3 separate regions of the Homo sapiens genome follow, and all the other regions are reported to be linked to region 3. Evidence: microRNA targets listed by miRTarBase, many of them from high-throughput screens and not tested one by one. Region 3 holds a microRNA gene; each other region holds the end of a gene's coding sequence.

Region 1 (6,700 bases), not on the chromosome of region 3:
GCCTGACACTGGTCCTTGCAAGGGACAGGGAGGTACTTTTCTCTACAGAATTGGTTTCCTCCTTGACAAAAAATGTGGCTAGATATAGGTCCGGGGCTTGGCCTGTTACCATCCATCCCAACCTAGCGACATTTACTTTTCTCCACAGGATCATTTTTCTCTTGACGAAGGTCGTCGCCTGTTTCTGGATTTCCCGATGGCCTGAGCATCATCCGCGCAGTGAACATCCTCCCTAAATCGGCTCGATCCCCTCTCCCCCAAAGGATCTAGCTAATTCTAAATCAAGCACAAACTTTATCTTCCTGTACTCCCTAGAGAGCACCTTCCGACTTCGGGGCTGGCTGCACCACTGCAATCCCGCGTAGCAGCCAAGCGTCCCTCTGGATTGTTCCCGCTTTTGCAGCAGGCCACACCCCCTCCAGCTCAGGCCCCGCTCACCTTGAGTTCTGGAGCACTTCCGGTCCGTAACCTGGGTCAGGGGTCCCCTGCCCAGGACCAGGGCTTGCCCGTCCGAGGGCAGGAAGATGGGGGGCGCTCCCCCAGGGGGGCTCTCGAGCCACAAGCGGCCCGGGGCCTCCACCTCGCCCATCCTGGGTGCCGGCCTGGGGAGCAGGTAAACGGGCTTGAGCGGCGCACAGCCCCAATTTGCTGCAGGAAGTCCCGCCTCCTCCCACATCCACTAGAAAGTTTCCCCACCATTAACTGCTCCGGAAGTCCCACCCGCTCGCCTTCCGCGGGTCGACCCGTTTCCCAGGCGACGACGCGTGCTCCATCCCTCCCCGAGTTGCAATCCCCACTTTCCAGCGTACAGGCAGAGAGCCTCGCACATGCCTCCGCCCCGCCCCGTACTCACCCGGGACCGCGGCTTGGGCTCACGGCCACTTCCGACCAGGGAGGTCCTGCCCGAGGTGCCCCGCCTGCAACCCGGCCGGCGGCGGTCGGTTCCTCGGCGGACGGAAATGACTCGTCCCCTCGTGGGTGGGGGGCGGGGCCTGGCCTCCTCCCACAGCAGCCACGCCCCTTCCCCGACTCCCGGCCCCCAGGGTCTCTCGGCAGCCCTGACCTTCATCTCTCTTGCTGCAACGCGAGGCTCAGGCCGGTAGCGGGGACTGGATCCTCCGTTAGCAGATTTGCCTCTTTCCACCTTGACTTCTAATTTTCATCCCAGGGAGGAAGATTTTTTTCCCATCTGATGGTCATTGTCAGTCGAGGAAACCTCCGCCCCCGACAGCGCCCCTAAGTCCTTCTTTGGCTTCACCCTCGATGTTCTAGTTTCCTCATCTATAAAAAGGATAATCGTTTCCGCTTCGTGGGGTTACCATGACGATTAAAGGAGCTAACACGTGACAAAAGCTTTAAAAAATGGGTGGTAGTGAGCCCTGTTTAAGTCTTTTTTTTTTTTTTTTTTTGAGACGGAGTCTCACTCTGTCGCCCAGGCTGGAGTGCAGTGGCGCGATCTCGGCTCACCTGCAAGCTCCGCCTCCCGGGTTGACGCCATTCTCCTGTCTCAGCCTCCCGAGTAGCTGGGACTACAGGCGCCCGCCACCACGCCCAGCTAATTTTTTGTATTTTGAGTAGAGACGGGGTTTCACCGTGTTAGCCAGGACGGTCTCGATCTCCTGATCTCGTGATCCGCCCACCTCGGCCTCCCAAAGTGCTCAGATCCGTTTAAGTCTTATTTAGTGTTAGCATTCTTTCGGTAGTGGTCTGGTGGGACTACGTTTACCTAGTCCTAATTTCGGACGAGGTTCCACCTGCTTTCTAACCTCCAGCCATTTTTTTTTCCCTTTGGAGAAGGGGTCTCACTGTGCTGCCCAGGCTGATCTCGACCTCCTGGTGTCATGTGATCCTCCCGCCTTGGCCTCCCAGCGTGTTGGGCTTATAGGCGTGAGGCACCAAGCCCAGTTGCTCCAGTCCTTTTATAATAGAAGACTCCCGGCTGGAGTTCCTGGCTTTGCTGGTGAATATGTGGGCTCTGTCTCCAACACTCACCTCCTCAAGATTGGGTTCCATGGTCACATAAGACTGGGATGCTCTCCTCCACCCCATGAACCTGTGTCTTCATATCTATAAAATGGGCACAAAGCCAGGCGCCGTGGCTCACGCCTGTAATCCCAGCACTTTGGGAGGCCAAGGCGGGTGGATCATTTGAGGTCAGGAGTTCAAGACCATCCTGACCAACATGATGAAACCCTGTTTCTACTGAAAATACAAAAATTACCCGGGCGGCAGTGGCGCGTAATCCCAGCTACTCGGGAGGTTGAGGCAGGAGAATCGCTTGAACCTGGGCGAGAGTGGGACCCTGTCTCAAAAAAGTAAATAAAATGGGCACAGTAATTCCAACCCCCAGCTATTCACTGATAATCAGACGCTGCCATTCGGTTTCAGAAAATGTTGAATGAACACTCACAACACACTTCACATTTATCTCAGAGGTAAAACTCTTTAATCTCAGAGCGCCCCTCCCAACTGCCGATCCCCCAACCCCTCACTCTCTCCCCCACACCAGGGCCGGAGAGTGAGGGCCCCTGCCCCCCACCTTGGGTGGACGAGGGCCCTTTAAGGCACCTGTGGAGGTGGGGGGCGAGGGGCGGGAGCTGGTACCATCCTGGATGCAGGGACGGGCTTCGATTGGCAGGCTGTTGTGGGGATGGATGGAACCAATGAAAGGGGGTGCCAGAGGCAGGGACAGTTTGGGGCCATCCCTGAGGGGGTCAGGGAACAAGTTGTCGGGACGTGGGCAAAGACGACCCCAGTCCCCGTAGTGTAAAGAACGTAAATTGAAGGCCCCGGGCCAATTCTGGGAAGAGGAGGGCTTGGCCACGCCCCCAGGAAGCTGGAGCCAATTGGGAGGGAGAACTCAGGAAAAGCGGACGGTGACTATGTAGAGACTGGTCAAGCCCTTTACAGGATTTGAGCCAATCAAAAAAAGAGCTGTCCAGCGACTAGGGGATGGAGCCAATGCCGTGCGAGCAAATCCCTTGTCGCTAGGCGGAAAACAAAGGAGTTGACCCATTTAGAGCTTAGAACTCAGCGAGCCAATCCCTTAATAGAAGGAATCTGTCGCTAGGCGGAGAGAGACGACAGACCCAATCGGGAAACGGGACAGATGCCGCTCCTCGGCGCGGCAGGTCGTGGGCTGGAAGGACGGCGGGGATTGGCAGAGGCGGGACAATCTTGGGAATGGGAGACGCAAGGAGGCCGGTCCCGGATCGGCCTCAGATTAGCAGGCCCCGGGAGTGGGGCGGGGGCGTAGTGTGGGACGGGGCGGACGCGGCCCGGGGCGCTCCCTCCCTGGACTTCAATATTTCCGCTTCAGCTTCTGGAAGTCGCTGGTGTTAAGCCGCGGCCGTGGCAGGTCCCCGAAGACCTGGGTGTCCTCGGCCTCTCGCAGCACCAGCGCGCGCATGCTCGCCGCGATGCGGTCCAGGTCGGGCGAAGAGGGCTGCGGGGACGGCGACGGGGCGAGGTCAGCGCCGGCAGGGCAATCCCCCTGCACCCACACGCGGTCCAGGGGTGCACCCGGGCTCCAAGCCCACTTCTAGCACGTCCCTGCCCTGCCACCTGTGCCCTGCGATGCCCACTGCCAGCAGTGCCCCTCCCCGTCTTGCTCCACGTAGGAACCCTTCTACCCGGTTCAGACACCTCCTCCACGAAGCCTACCTGCCCCTCTCCCTCTCCCCTTCTTGGCCTAGGACATTGCTTCCTACACAGTGGAAGTGCTGTTGCCTGCTAGCCATTAAGGCTGAGTGCACCGTCTCATGTCTGAGGATCTGGGCTGGGGTTTCAGTCATGTTCCAATCAGACCTCTGCCGCTGACAAACTATGAGCAAGAGGTTTTGCTTCCCTAGGCCTCAGTCTCCCCTTCTGAAAAATGGGGCGGATAACAGGGTCTCTGTGAGGGCTGAGATAATCAGCTGTTACTGCCTTATCATGTGGCCACTGCGCTACAGAAAAGATCCCTCGCTGTGTCAGCCCCCGCCAAGGAGCCTGCAGTTCTGGCACCTAGTACTGCCTCCACTACAGCCCCCGTCACCCGGAGCTGGGCCTGTCCCCTCGCAGGATGGGACCCGGAGACCCAGATCAGGAACTGGACCTGAGCCCAGTGGGAGACCAGCCCCCGGGCACAGCACGCAAGAGGCCAGAGCATTCAATTAACTGTGTTGCCATGAGTCGCAAGCACAGAGAGCAGCAGCAGGTGGACCCCGCCCGCACCAGGCCCTGTTCCTGGTCTTCAGTGCTCACTGCTTCATTGAGGGAGGATGCACAGAAAAGGTCACCACTGTGACTGCTGGTTTGCATATAAGGACACTGAGGCTTGAGGGGGGGACTGTGGGGACCCAGGCCTCCTCCCTCAAAGCCCACAGCTCCTTCCTGAAACACACCTGGGTTCCAGTCCCAGCTCTGCCTCTCAGGGAAGTCACATGTCCCCTCAGTGCCTCAGTTTCCCCTCTGCTTCAGGGAGGCTCAGTGAAGGGTGAGGAGGACCCACCTAGGCCAGCAGAGCCCAGCCCAGGAGCTTCAAACAGGGGTTGCTACAAGGGGTGAACAGGGGACCAGGGGGTGGGACAAATTCTGCAAAGGGCTAGGAATGTGCAGGGTGGGGATGGGAGGTGATCTGAACCCTCCAAGCCTCAGTTTCTCCACTGGAGGGCATGCCAAAACACCTGTGCCTTGCCCAGAGCAGGTGTTCTATAAATAGAGACGCTCCTGGAAAGGAGAGGCCTTCTCTATAAGGCACTAGGACACATGGTAAGGCTGCAATTGTTAAAACTGCAAGGCTCGTGTCCAAGAACTCGCCTCTTGAGGTTGAGGGGAGGATTCAGTTAGCTTATGGGTGGAAAGCAGCATCCATGCTGGAGGGCTTCCTGGAGGAGGCGGCTCAGAGCCCTTCCAGCTGCCCTCCCTACCTCCCCACATTTGCCCCTCACCGGCCCATTCTCCTCATCTGATGACCGCGCCTCTGTCCTCTTCTCCTTGAAGCCCCAGACGGGCACAGACACAGGCAGGGACTTGGCGTACTGCTGTGTGGGTAGGGCTGAGGCTGGGGGCACTGAGCAGGTGGGGGGGCCGGCGGGGGTCTCCTCGCTCAGGCTGCCATCTGAAAGAGAGGGTGGACTTCAGCTTCTGTCCCTGCCTTTGTGTCGGCCGTGTGCCTGCCCTCAGGTCGGGAGGGGAACAGCCTGGGACACTCACCATCTGTACTCTCGGGGTCTGACTCACAGAAGGGGGGAAGGTCCTGGAGGGTGGCGTCCTCATCCATCACAAAGAGCCCTGTGGATGACCTGAGTTAGAGGCCCAGGCCAGGCAGCACCTAGCCATGCTCCATGTGTCCTCCTCCTCAGCCACGGCCACTGCCACAGCCACCACCTCCACCTCCCTGAAGCTTCTGAGACCCATTTCCTTCACCTCAAAAACAACTTCCTCTAGCAGCCTGCCTGGTCATCGGCAAAAACCAACCCAGTTTCTATGGATCTGCCACCCTCTCAGCTGCACACAACGGGCTGCTAACATGAAACCTCTACGATCTGTTCGGGACAATGTGACTCAAAACACAGCCTTAGAGAAACATGCAATGACTATGACCTCTGTTTCACAAATGGAGACCTGGAGGCCCAGAGAAGTTAAGTCACTTGCCCGAGGTCCCATGGCTACTAAGGGACACCACCAGGATTTGAACTCAGGATGCCTGCCCTTCACCCTACACGGGTTTTCTCCAGCAATGGTGAGGAGGCCTGCCATTGGTAATAACAACAAACAAGGACCTCCTAGTGACTGATCAAACTCCTACTAACTCCGCAAAGCCCTAGCGTTACAGTCCAGCCTCCGGGAAGTGCCCGACCCCCAAATTCCCCCCAAAACAGCTGGCTGCTCCCTCCCTGGCTTCCTCAGATGTTGGCTGCATCCCAGACAACTCTTTAACTCCTGCTTGGCCTCCCAGGCGTTGTGGAAACGACTCTGGTTCTACCCATGACCTGCCCCAGAGCCTCCCAACCCCCACCGGGACTCCAGTTCCTTGGCTAGACCGGGAGCCCCTTGAGAAAAAAGCCCGAGCCTGCTCTGTGTCCTTGTGCCCACCACTCCCAGCACAGAGCTGGCCCCAGGACCAGTAAGGCTCAGAGCAGGGAAGGGACTGGCTTTAGATCACACAGCAAGCCCCAGGCAAGCCTGTCTGGCTCTGGGGTCCTGAGACTGCACTTCTGTAGAAGTACTCTGGGCTAAGCAGGCCCCCACCCCGACAAAGCCTCCTGCGGGCACCTCAAGCGCTGGGCCGCACCCGCCCCTGCCCCCACCCTCTCACCTCCATTATCACTAATGCCCAGCTGCTCCCCGGAGGTCTCTGTCTCTGTGGGCTCATCCTCGTCCTCCTCGTTGTCCTCTCTGGCCAGGGTAGGCCGGGGTGGGCTGGGTGTGGGACTGGGTGGCTGTGGTGCTGGTGGGGGCGCAGGAGGCCGAGCAGCAGTGGCAGCCCTGTGGGCCAGTGCGATGTCGTGGAGGCAACGGCGCGCTGCCTCCGCCAGGGCTCCTCGACCATGGGCAGCATAGGCACAGGGGCCCGGGCGGGGTGGTGGCGGCGGGGCCGCGGTCAGCAGCACCAGCTCCGTGCCAGTCCGGGCCCGGAAGCGCTCAGCGGCCCCCACCACGGCCTCCCACAGCTCCTCGGGGCGCCCCGACGCCATCCGCGCCCTGCGGGCCAGAG
Region 2 (7,288 bases), not on the chromosome of region 3:
TTTGAGACCAGCTTTAGCAACATGGCGAAACCCTGTCTCTACTAAAAATACAAAAATTACCTGGGTGTGGTGGCACGTGCCTGAAATCCCAACTACTCAGGAGGCTGAGACTCGAGAGAATCACTTGAACCAGGGAGATGAAGGTTGCAGTGAGCCGAGATCGCGCCACTGCACTCCAGCCTAGGTGACAGAGTAAGACTGTCTCAAAAAAAAAAAAAAAATTGCATTCTGTGGTCCATGAGGCCCTGATCAAGCTGCCTGTCCTCTCTTGCCTCACCTCCTCCTCTTGCTCTCCCCACTCCCTCTTGCTTCAGCCACTCTGGCCTCTTCGCTATTCCTTCAACAAGCCAGGCACACCACCCCGAAGGTTTTTGCACTTACTGTTCCCTCAGCCCCCAGAGACCTGCCAGCCTCACCCTCACCAGTCTTGGGCTTCTACCCAGTAACCACACCCTCCATCATCCCCATCACCCTTACCCTGCTTTCACTCAAAGTTATGAATCACATTTCTTGTCTTTGTCCCCGCTAATATTTAGTTCCATTAAGAACAGGAATTTTTTTTTTTTTTCTTTGAGACAGAGTCTCACTCTGTCACCCAGGCTGGAATGTAGTGGTGCAACCTTGGCTCACTGCAACTTCCCCATCCTGGATTCAAGCAATTCTCCTGCCTCAGCCTCCCAAGTAGATGTGATTACAGGCACCCACCACCACGCCCAACTAATTTTTGTATTTTTAGTAGAGACGGGGTTTCACCATGTTGGCCAGGCTGGTCTGGAACTCCTGACTTCAGGTGATCCGCCCTCCTAGGTCTCTCAAAGTGCTGGGATTACAGGCATGAGCCACCGCACCCGGCTATTAACTGAATTTCTTGTCTGTGTTCCCACTAATATTCAGTTCCATTGAGAGCAGGAATTTTTTTTTTTTTGAGACAGGGTCTTGCTCTCTTGCCCAGGCTGGAGTGCGGTGGTACAGTCACAGCTCACTGCAACCTTGACCTCCAAGCAATCCTCTCACCTCAGCCTCCCGAGTAGCTGGGACTACAAGGCATGCACCACCATGCCCGGCTAATTTTTGTATTTTTTGTAGAGACAGGATCTCACTATGTTGTTCAGGATGGTCGCAAACTCATGACCTCAAGTGATCCTCCTGCTTTGGCCTCCCAAAGTGCTGGGGTTACAGGCATGAGCCATCACGCCCAGCCGAGAGCAGGAATTTTTGCCTGTTTTATTCACTCCTGTGTCTCCAGTGTTTAAAATAAGCTTTGGCACACAGCAGATGCTCAAAAAATAATTGTGGGTTTTGGGTGGGTTGTTTTTTTAGTTTTTTAGAGACAGGATCTTGCTGTTTCCCAGGCTGGAGTGAAGTAGTGCAATCATAGCTCACTGCAGCCTCGACCTCCTGGACTCAAGCAATCCTCTCCTCTCAGCCTCCTGAGTAGTTGGGACTACAGGCATGCACCACCACACCCAGCTAATTTTTTAATTTTTTGTCCAGATGAAGTCTTGCTGTGTTACACAGACTGGTCTCTAACTTCTGGCCTCAAGTGATCCTCTGGCTTTGGCCTCCCAAAGTGCTGAGATTACAAGCAAGAACCACTGTGCCCAGCCTCAAAAAATATTTGTTAAAAGGAAGATTAAACAATGGAGACCAAAAGAGAAACCAAGAGAAATAGGAGGAGAAAAGGAAGAGATAAAGGGAAGGAGACAGGGGACACTGAGACTAGGGACCTGGAAGCTGTGGGGTGCGGGGGCAGGGGAAGGGGAGCAAGGTGGAAGAAAGTGTTGGGGTAAGATAAGTGTGGAGGAGAGAAGAAAGAGAATCAGCTGGGGCTGGGCACAGTGTCTCACGCCTGTAATCCCAGCACTTTGGGAGGCCGAGGCGGGAAGCTCACTTGAGGTCAGGAGTTCAAGACTAGCCTGGCCACTCTGGTGAAACCCTCTCTCTATTAAAAATACAAAAATTATACGGGCATGGTGGTGGGCGCCTGTAATCCCACCGCCACTGCACTCCAGCCTGGGTAATAGAGCAAGACTCCATCTAAAAAAAAAAAAAAAAAAAAAAGAACGAGCTGGGGACAGAGAGCAATAGGGAGGACACAGAATGAGCAGAATGAGTCAGAGACATACAGAGTGGGAGAGAGAAACAATACCAAGAGACACCAGAGAGATAAACAGGACACAGAAAGACTGAGACGCAGAGAGACAAACACAGAAAGAGAAAAGAGCCAGGACACACAGCAACAAGGAAACGAAAGAGTAGGAAAAAATGGGGCTGGGAGAAGAGAGATGAAAACCAAAGAGAGGGGGGCCAGTGGGAACCGAAATGGAGAGGCCCCTCCCTCAAACTCACCATTTGCTGGTGGCCAGGGCTTTGGACTGACTTGCTATCCCCAGAGGATCCCAGCTGGGGCTTTTAAACCCTGAGGGACAGAGGTGGTGGAGAGAGAGAACATGTGACATCGTTCTCAGGGCTTGAGATCACCAGTTTATTTATTCCTCAGAGCAAGTCTATGAAGAAGTACCATTAGCATCTTCATTCTACAGAACCACAGAGGCAGGGCCAGGCACAGTGGCTCATGCCTATAATTCCAGGGCTTTGGGAAGCCAAGGTAGGAAAATCACTTAAGCCCAGGAGTTCAAGACCAGCCTGGCTAACATAGTGTGAAACCCCATTTCTATTAAACAAACAAACAAAAAATGCTTAAAAATTTTAAATAAGTTATAAGGCTGGGTGCAGTGGCTCACGCCTGTAATCCCAGCACTTTGGGAGGCCAAAGTGGGCAAATCACCTTAGGTCAGGAATTTGAGACCAGCCTGACCAACATGATGAAACCTCGTCTCTACTAAAAATACAAAAATTAGCCAGGCGTGGTGGCGGGCGCCTGTAATCCCAGCTACTCAGGAGGCTGAAGCAGGAGAATGGCATGAACCCAGGAGGCGGAGCTTGCAGTGAGCCGACATTGCACCACTGCACTCCAGCCTGAGCGACAGAGCAAGACTCCGTCTCAAAAGAAAAAAAAAAAAAAGAAACAGAGGCCGGGTGTGGTGGCTCATGCCTGTAATCCCAGAATTTTGGGAGGCCCAAGTGGGCAAATCACGAGGTCAGGAGTTCGAGACCAGCCTGGCCAACATGGTGAAACCGCGTCTCTACTAAAAAATACAAAAATTAGCCAGGCGTGGTGGCAGGGGCCTTAATCCCAGCTACTTGAGAGGCAGAGACAGGAGAATTGTTTGAACCTGGGAGGTGGAGGTTGCAGTGAGCAGAGATCGAGCCATTGCACTCAAGCGTGGGGGACAAGAGTGAGACTTCTCTCAAAATAAAAATAATAAAAAATAAAAATACAAAAAAAAAATTAGCTGGGTGTGGTGGTGGGCACCTGTAATCCCAGCTACTCAGGAGGTTGAGGCAGGAGACTCACCTGAACCAGAAGGCGGAGGTTGCAGTGAGCAAGATCATGCCACTGCACTCCAGCCTGGGCAACAGTGCAAGACTCCATCTCAAAAAAAAAAAAAAAGAAACACAGAGGTCAAGTGACCTGCCCAAAGTCACACAGTTTGTAATGAGAGGAGCTGGAATTTGAACCCGAGTAGTCTCGCCCCAGTCAGTGCCCCTAACTATCACCTATGCTGACTACAAAGAAGTGCTGGCTTCCTAGATTCCCCTTCACAACCACCCTCTGGGGAGTGGTGGTGGGGTAAAGGGGAGGTGAGCAGAGCAGCTGACCTTCCTAACCACCTCCACAGATCTCCAGGAGCCACAGCGTGGGAGAAGATGCTCAGCCTCACTCTCCTGGGAAGGCCTCCAGCTCAAGCGGGGAGGCTGGACAGGAACCAGCTTCCTGCATGTCAGATCCCAGGCCCTGTCCAGAGCCAGGCCTCAGTCTTCCAGGATGGAACATGGCCTCCCCACCTCGGACTCCTTGCCCAGAAGCTAGACCTCAGTTTCCCGGCCTTGGTTTCCTAGCAGCGCCCCAGGCCAGAGGCTGCACCAGTCTTCCAAGGCAGCACAGCGCTTTGGTCATTGGCTCTGAGATTTCCAGACAGGCTGAGAAGCAACACCACCGCCGCCGCCATCCACTCTCATCTCTCTGACCCCAGGAAGTGGGCCAGCATCGTTCCCTCTCGGCAGCCAACTGAGATCCCTGGGTGATTCAGCCTCTGTCCCTGACATGATAATTACACCAACAGCAATTCCCAGAACCCCAGCTATTGTCCTATATCACCCCACCCCTCCTCTTGTCTCCTGTGCTGTAACACGAGGGCAGACACTCTGCTTCTCCCCAGAGACATTTGTCCTTTGCTCCAAGCACACAAAAAACTGGGAAGCCCTTCCCACTGTCTGACCTTCAAAGGCCCTGCTGCTGCTAAGCTGCTTCTCCCTACTCCAAGAAAAGAAGAGCTCCTTAAGGAAGGGGAACAGCCCACCCGGGACAAAACAGACAAAGGCCACACCCCAGGAAGGTCTTTCCCACACAAACTTGGGAGGGGAGGCATCTCTGCAGACAACAGGACAGACACAGCACGAGGCAGCCGAGGCTGTCGTTTATTGCAGATGGACACGGATTCAGGGAGGTGAAGAGGCAGATGGGCTGTGGGCTCTGTGCTCAGCATCCCACAGCAGGAGGGGCAGGAGACAGAGCTCAGGATGGGATCTTCCTGATGGTGGAGGACCCGGCCTGACCACAGAGTAGCTGCAAGAGGCAAGGCCCCGAGCTGACACCCCCTGGGCCCCCATTCCGCGGGATGACGGCTCCAGAGACGCTGAGCGATGTCATTAGGAAGAAGGCCGGACCAATCCAGAGACGGTGCATCCTCGGCGTGGAGCACAGAGCTCTCGAGGGCTGGCGATCCGGGTTGGGGTGGAAGGGAGAGTTACCCGGGTCTTCGCCCCTCCGCGGCCTCTGGCGTCTCTCTGGGTGTCTGGCGGCTCGGACGGCGGTCAGGGTCGCTGTAGCGGCGGCGGCGGCTCAGCGGCAGCTGGAGCTGGGGTCGCGGCCCGCCGGGGACTCCCAGGAGGCAGGAGAGGGAGGCAGCGGCGGGCGCCGGGACAGGCGGCACGCCCGGGCGGGCAGCACACGGAGGGGACGGCGCGCTGGGCTGTGGGCCGGCGGGTGCCGCGGGAGACCGCGTGGGTACCCAGATGAGACCGTAGTACACGGCGAGCAGCACGGCAGCTAGCGAGACGCAGAGGAAGTAGGCGCATACCGGAGCCAAGCGCAGCCAGCGCCCCCGCGGGCCCTCGCTCAGCCCCGCGCCTCCGGGGCTCTCGGCGCCGCCGCCCACGCAGCTGGTCCCCCGCATCCCCGCAGCCCACTCGGCTCCGCGCCGCAGACCGCACAGGCCCCGCCCCCACCAGGCCCCGCCCCCACCCCGCAGACCGCCCCGCTCTCTAAACCGCCCGCCTCCGGCCCCGCCCCCGCCAGCATGGTCACGCCCCCACGCGAGCTGCCGCCTCCGCATCCTAGGCCCACCCCCTCCAGCCTCCGCCCCACCACCGACAGGCGGAGGTGCTACCCCGCCCCCCTCGCTCCAGCCCCGCCCCCGCGCTTAGCCCCACCACCCCAATCACCGCCTCCTCCCGCCACAACACGGTTCTCTTCCCAGACTCGGACTTCATCCAGCCCAGGCATCTAGCCCGCCTCGGAGCCCGCCCCCTCGTCCCGCTCAAGCCCTGCCTGGAGCCCTAACCCGCCCTGTGCCGCAGCCAGTCTCACTTCTCTACCTGTCGGACTGCTCTACTCCAGTGCTCGAGCCCTGCCCGCTACGGCCTCTGGCTCCCACACTCTAGTTCCGGAATCCCCGCTCTCCTCCCGCGCGGGTTCCCGCGCGACACCCCGACCACGCCCCCGCTGACGGCCCCGCCCCATGCCCATGGCCAGAGCCCCACCCGCGCGCGCTGACCCCGCCCCCCGCTCTAACTCCGCCTGTCAGGATTCCGGCCCCGCCCAGGCAGCCTAGCTCCGCCCCCGCGGGACCCGCCTCCTCCAGCACACTCTCAGCCCGCTTTCAGGTATCCTCAGCACCTCAGGCCCCGAGGTTCCAGCTCCGCCCCTCACCGCAATCGCGCCCCTTCTCCCAGCTCCTCCCCAACGGTCAGCTTTTCCCTCTCCCTAGAGCCAAGGGGTCCAGACTAGGCTCTGGGGTAGAAAGAACACAGCCTGGAAATCCAGATAAACCCCTCCTCACGCCCCCTCCCCATCAAGGCGGGGAAGCTTCAGTCCCCTCCCAGCAGCGTCTTCAGGAATTCGGGGAGGCCTGCGGGAGGGGGGAGGGAAGACGGATCAGAAGGGTGGAGGAAGACCCCTTCCTTCCGCCTCTTCCGCCACAGAAAAGCCCGCCAAGCACAGCGACCCAGCCTGCCCCCTCCAGAAACACAGTTCAAGGGTGAGCGGAAGCACTGCGTTTAATACGACAGGGCTGGCGCCCGAGTAATTCAAGCCCTTCGGAAGTGTCACCGGCTGCCAGGCCTCGGATGCAATCCTGGAGGCGGGAGATTCGGCCTGAAGACTGGCTCGAGCCGCCCAGGGCCTCCATGGGAGACTAACGCGGAAGCGTCCCAGCCGTCCCAGTGCCGTGACGTCCCCCGTTGGTGGGGCCTGCACCCGACTACTGCCCTGGCCCCGCCCGGCTCGCAGACCCTGGCTCCTCCCCCCTTAGATTTAACCCTCTCCTGGCTGGAGTGTGGCAGAAGCAGAGGACAGAGGAGCGAGGCGGTGGGAGGTTAGTGCAGAGCGCGGAGGCCGCGGTCCGGCGGGCGCGGTCAGCGAGCGGCCCCCGGCAGCGGAGGGGCCGCCACCACCTTGCAGAAACGCACCCTCTGGAAGTCGGTGATCTCCGCCGTCTCCTGGCCTTCGGGGCCTGCCTCTGAGGAGAGAAGGGGCTGAGTCAGCGGAGGGGAGCAGTCTTCCCACCTCCCCCCCGGCCCAGCACCCCTCCCCCGTCTAGCCACGTCTCTCATCCAGTTCGAGCCCTTGCCACAGCAGGCTCGGCGCTAAGCGGTTTACGGGGCCCAGACTAATCCTCTCAGCGGACCCACGCAGCAGCAAACACTCCCAACATAACCGTTTACAATCGAGGAAACGCGGGTGTGGCGAGATCTGGCTCCCGACCAACAAGTGGCCCAAGACAGAGGGTCTGGGCCCCCGCGCCACCCAAGGCTGCAAACTGTCCTCTCCCACCCCCGCCCCATCTCACGGCCTTCATCAACCTCCACCAAGCCAGTCCTAGAGGACCCGCCCTCCCCTTTCCTTCGCCAACGCCTGCTATTCTAACCAGTCCTTCCTTGGCTC
Region 3 (4,000 bases):
ATCTATCCCTGTAACACCCCCCCAGCAGTGCCCCTTGGAGAGGACACAGCATCTATCCCTGTAACACCCCCCCAGCAATGCCCCTTGGAGAGGACACAGCGTCTATCCCTGTAACACCCGCCCCCAGCGATGCCCCTTGGAGAGGACACAGTGTCTATCCCTCTAACACCACCCGCCAGCAATGCCCCTTGAAGAGGACACAGGATCTGTCCCTCTAACACCCCCCCAGCAGTGCCCCTTGGAGAGGACACAGCATCTATCCCTGTAACACCCCCCCAGCAGTGCCCCTTGGAGAGGACACAGCATCTATCCCTGTAACACCCGCCCCCAGCGATGCCCCTTGGAGAGGACACAGGATCTGTCCCTCTAACACCCCCCCCAGCAACGCCCCTTGGAGAGGACACGGCATCTATCCCTGTAACACCCCCCCCAGCAATGCCCCTTGAAGAGGACACAGCATCTATCCCTGTAACACCCCCCCAGCGATGCCCCTTGAAGAGGACACAGCATCTATCCTTGTAACACCCCCCCCCCAGCAACGCCCTTTGGAGAGGACACAGCATTTATCCCTATAACACCCCCCCGCCAGCAATGCCCCTTGGAGAGGACACAGGATCTATCCCTGAAACACGACCCCCAACAATGCCCCTTGGAGAGGACACAGCATCTATCCCCGTATCACCCCACCCAGCAAAGCCCCTTGGAGAGTCCCACAGCATGTATCCCTGTGATTTCCAGCACCCAGACCCTGGCACGTGGGCCCTCAAGAATTCCTAGATGGATGGTGAGCGAATGGGTGCAAAGGAGGGCACCCCAGGCTTAGAACAGACAAGGGCAGGCCCAAGCAAAACCAGGGGCTGTGGTGGGTCCAGAAAGCCCCAGAAGCTTTGAGGCCTGGGTCTGCAGGGACTCTGTGAGCTGGCAGCACCTGCCCCTCACCAGGCGAAGGGCACCTTGCGATGTTCCTGCATGACGTAATGGTCGTCATTCTGAGGTAGTGCTCGCATCAGCCCAAAGTCCCCGATCTTGACCAGGTCGCGGGTAGCCAACAGCAGATTGCGGGCAGCCAGGTCACGGTGAATAAAGCGCTTGGACTCCAGGTAGCCCATGCCCTCAGCCACCTGCACAGCGTAGCGGCTCAGAGTCCCCAGGAGGAAGTGGCCCTGGTGCTTACGTAGCCGGTCCAACAACGATCCCAGAGGTGCCAGCTCTGTCACCTGAGGCCACGGAGGAGGCAGGAGGAATGAGCTGGAGGACCCTGCCCCTTCTCAGCAGCCCACGCTGGGCCCCCAGTCCCCTTCCTGAAGGCTTTCCAGAGCCAGGCTGCACGCACCTTCCTGGCCTGCTGTCTGGGGACCTCTAGGAGTCCTGCAGTTTCTCAGGCCTCTCCCTCGAGGCAATTTGGGAAACTGATGCCTAGAGAGAAGGAGCCCAAAGAGGCAGTGGCTAGAAATTCCAAAACTCAGCTGGACGTGGTGGCTCACGCCTGTAATCCCAGCACTTTGGGAGGCCGAGGTGGGTGGATCATTTGAGGTCAGGAGTTTGAGACCAGCCTGGCCAACATGGTGAAACCCCGTCTCTACTAAAAATACAAAAATTAGCCAGGCATGGTAGCGCACGGCTGTAATCCCAGCTACTTGGAAGCCTGAGGCAGGAATATCGCGTGAACCCAGGAGGCCGAGGTTGCAGTGAGCCTAGATCATGCCATTGCACTCCAGCCTGGGCGACAAAGTGAGACTCCATCTCAAAATAAATAGATAAATAAAACATAAATTCCCCAAATTAAACTCAGTGGCCAGCCCCTCCCATGGGAGTAACTCTCTTGACACTGAGCACCAGCAAAATCCAGAGACAGACCCGGACTGGACCGCAGCAGACACAGCCCGTACCAGGCTGGGCCCCTGTGGACCCCTTTACTCCATCAGGTTGGGGGACCAAAGTAGGATCTAGGGCGCCTCTGACCTTAGGATGGAGAGAGGAACCGAACCACACATATGGGACCGGAGCCCTCTCCCTGCCCGCCCCCTCCCGCCCGCAGTACTCACCATCTTCATGGGCGGCGTGAGCACCACCCCGTAGAGGCGGATGAGGTTTCGGTGGTCGAGCGAGTGCATGGCATTGACCTCCCGGATGAAGTCGTCCATGGCTTCTGGCTGGCTCAGGACATCGGGCTTCAGGCACTTCACAGCCACACTCACCTGCCCAGAGCGGGATTTGCAAGGACTCAGGACTTGCCAGGTCCCAGACACGCGGAGCCAACCTGCTCCACCCTCCAACTCGGCTCAACGATCCCTGCCTGTGAGCTCCTCATCTGGGTGGGTAAGCATGTCACCAGTGCCTGGGCTTACGTGCTCTGCGTGAGGCCTGGCTGGAGAAGGGCAGACGGCTGGCCCTCAGGAGCCATCGTCGGCCACACCTCCCCTTCCTGGGGGAATGCCGGGCTTAAATACCAACCAAAAAGTAAGAGATAACCAGTATGATGAGAGAATATTCAAATGTTATAAAATGGAATTTTTTTTTTTGAGACAGTCTCGCTCTTGTCGCCCAGGCTGGAATGCAGTGACGTGATCTCAGCTCACTGCAACCTCTGCCTCCCGGGTTCAAGTGATTCTCCTGCCTCAGCCTCCTGAGTAGCTGGGATTACAGGCAGGTGCCACCACGCCTGGCTAATTTTGTATTTTTAGTAGAGATGGGGTTTCTCCATATTGCTCAGGCTGGTCATAAAATGGAATATTAAAAGGTGTTTTGCTGTAGAAGGAAAATGCTGTAAATGTAATGCCAAAAACAAAGCTGTGGAGCTGGAAGTCTGCACAGCGGCTTCCCCGGGAGAAGGATGCACTGAGTGACAGCGGCTTCCCCGGGAGAAGGACGCACTGAGTGGACGGAGAATGAGGAGCCCTCTGAGGTGCTGGGAATGCACCGCACGTGATCTGAGCAGTAAGGACACGGCTGCTGCACAGGAAACAGTCACACCAGAACTGTATGCTGTGGTGACACGTTATCCCTGAGGGGAAAATGTTAAATGCAACGCCGAGAAGAAAGAACAAGATTTTAAAAGCTGTATCCAGAATTTGTATCTTAACTAAATCCAACAAAATACCTAAAGTGGGAGGAAGAGGCTCGGCTTCCTCTGAGTGGTGGGATTACAGGCGATTTTTTTTTTCTTGTTTTTCAAATACTTTCCAAACTTTTATAATAAATTATTTTTATAGTTGAAATAATAAATGTGCTTAGTTAAACCTGAGCATGGGCTGGACGTGGTGGCTCACACCTGTAATCCAAGCACTTTGGGAGGCTAAAGTGGGCAGATCATCTGAGGTCAGGAGTTCGAGACCAGCCTGGCCAACATGGTGAAACCCCGTCTCTACTAAAAATACAAAAATTAACTGAGTGTGGTGGTGCATGCCTGTAATCCCAGCTACTCAGGAGGCTGAGGCAGGAGGATTGCTTGAACCCGGAAAGTGGAGGTTGCAGGAAGCCGAGATCGTGCCTACTGCACTCCAGCCTGGGCGACAGAGCGAGACTCCATCTCAAAAATAAATAAATAAATAAAACCCCAAAAATCCTGAGCACGGACTCTGGGATGAGCCACACTGTGACGCATCCCCAGTCCCATCCACACCCTGGTTGGGGGCAGAAGAGCCACTACCAGCCCCGGGTCCCATGCCTCTGCTGCGCTGGCAGGACACAGAGAGCTCACCGTCTTCCCTGAGGGCGCGTCCCACTCGCCCCTGCGCACCACGCCAAAGGAACCATCACCCAGCTTCTCCAGGAGGCGCAGGTCCTTCTCCCCAATGAGGCAGGTGAGGCTCTGCAGGGGCCCCTCCCCTGCTGGGCCCCCAGGGGCGGGCGAGGTCTTCCGGAAGGTGCTCTGAGAGTGATGAGGTGGGAACTCAGCCTCCAGTCGCTTTCCACTGAACACCTGTTTGAAGGCAGCCGGGGGCCAGATGGAATCCAACACCCCAGGGTCAGTCACTCAGTCCCACCCCGCTGGGTCCAC

Evidence for each region. Region 3 holds the annotated microRNA hsa-miR-6829-5p (UGGGCUGCUGAGAAGGGGCA, at 1,260-1,279, opposite strand). A microRNA usually pairs through its seed, bases 2 to 8, with sites in the 3' UTR of a target mRNA and lowers its output. Matches are read on the target gene's strand: a 7mer-m8 pairs with bases 2 to 8, a 7mer-A1 pairs with bases 2 to 7 and ends in A, and an 8mer does both.
Region 1: miRTarBase lists AKT1S1 as a target of hsa-miR-6829-5p. Seed matches in the 3' UTR shown: 7mer-A1 at 3,136-3,142.
Region 2: the mRNA of INAFM1 is a reported target of hsa-miR-6829-5p. Seed matches in the 3' UTR shown: 7mer-A1 at 4,585-4,591.

What each region holds. Positions count from the first base shown.
Region 1 is chr19:49,866,616-49,873,315 of GRCh38, forward strand. It overlaps AKT1S1 (AKT1 substrate 1), which reads right to left. Exons shown (of 5, transcript NM_001098633.4): 2 at 6,302-6,687; 3 at 5,197-5,274; 4 at 4,932-5,101; 5 at 2,424-3,445. The coding sequence starts at 6,680. The coding sequence ends at 3,302. PNKP (polynucleotide kinase 3'-phosphatase) reads right to left here and starts at 961. Exons shown (of 17, transcript NM_007254.4): 1 at 854-961; 2 at 439-602. The coding sequence starts at 589. RefSeq lists enhancers at 1-416, 417-1,198, 3,397-4,044 and silencers at 358-727, 798-1,097, 3,172-3,481.
Region 2 is chr19:47,272,932-47,280,219 of GRCh38, reverse strand. It overlaps INAFM1 (InaF motif containing 1), which reads right to left and starts at 5,335. Exons shown (of 1, transcript NM_178511.6): 1 at 4,497-5,335. The coding sequence starts at 5,300. The coding sequence ends at 4,872. It also overlaps a transcript of CCDC9 not described here. RefSeq lists a cis regulatory region at 1,687-1,824 and silencers at 4,964-5,413, 5,774-6,033, 6,644-6,953.
Region 3 is chr3:195,881,112-195,885,111 of GRCh38, forward strand. It overlaps MIR6829 (microRNA 6829), which reads right to left and starts at 1,284; the gene lies at 1,218-1,284. It overlaps TNK2 (tyrosine kinase non receptor 2), which reads right to left. Exons shown (of 16, transcript NM_001382273.1): 4 at 3,701-3,922; 5 at 2,046-2,198; 6 at 940-1,217. RefSeq lists an enhancer at 2,175-2,675.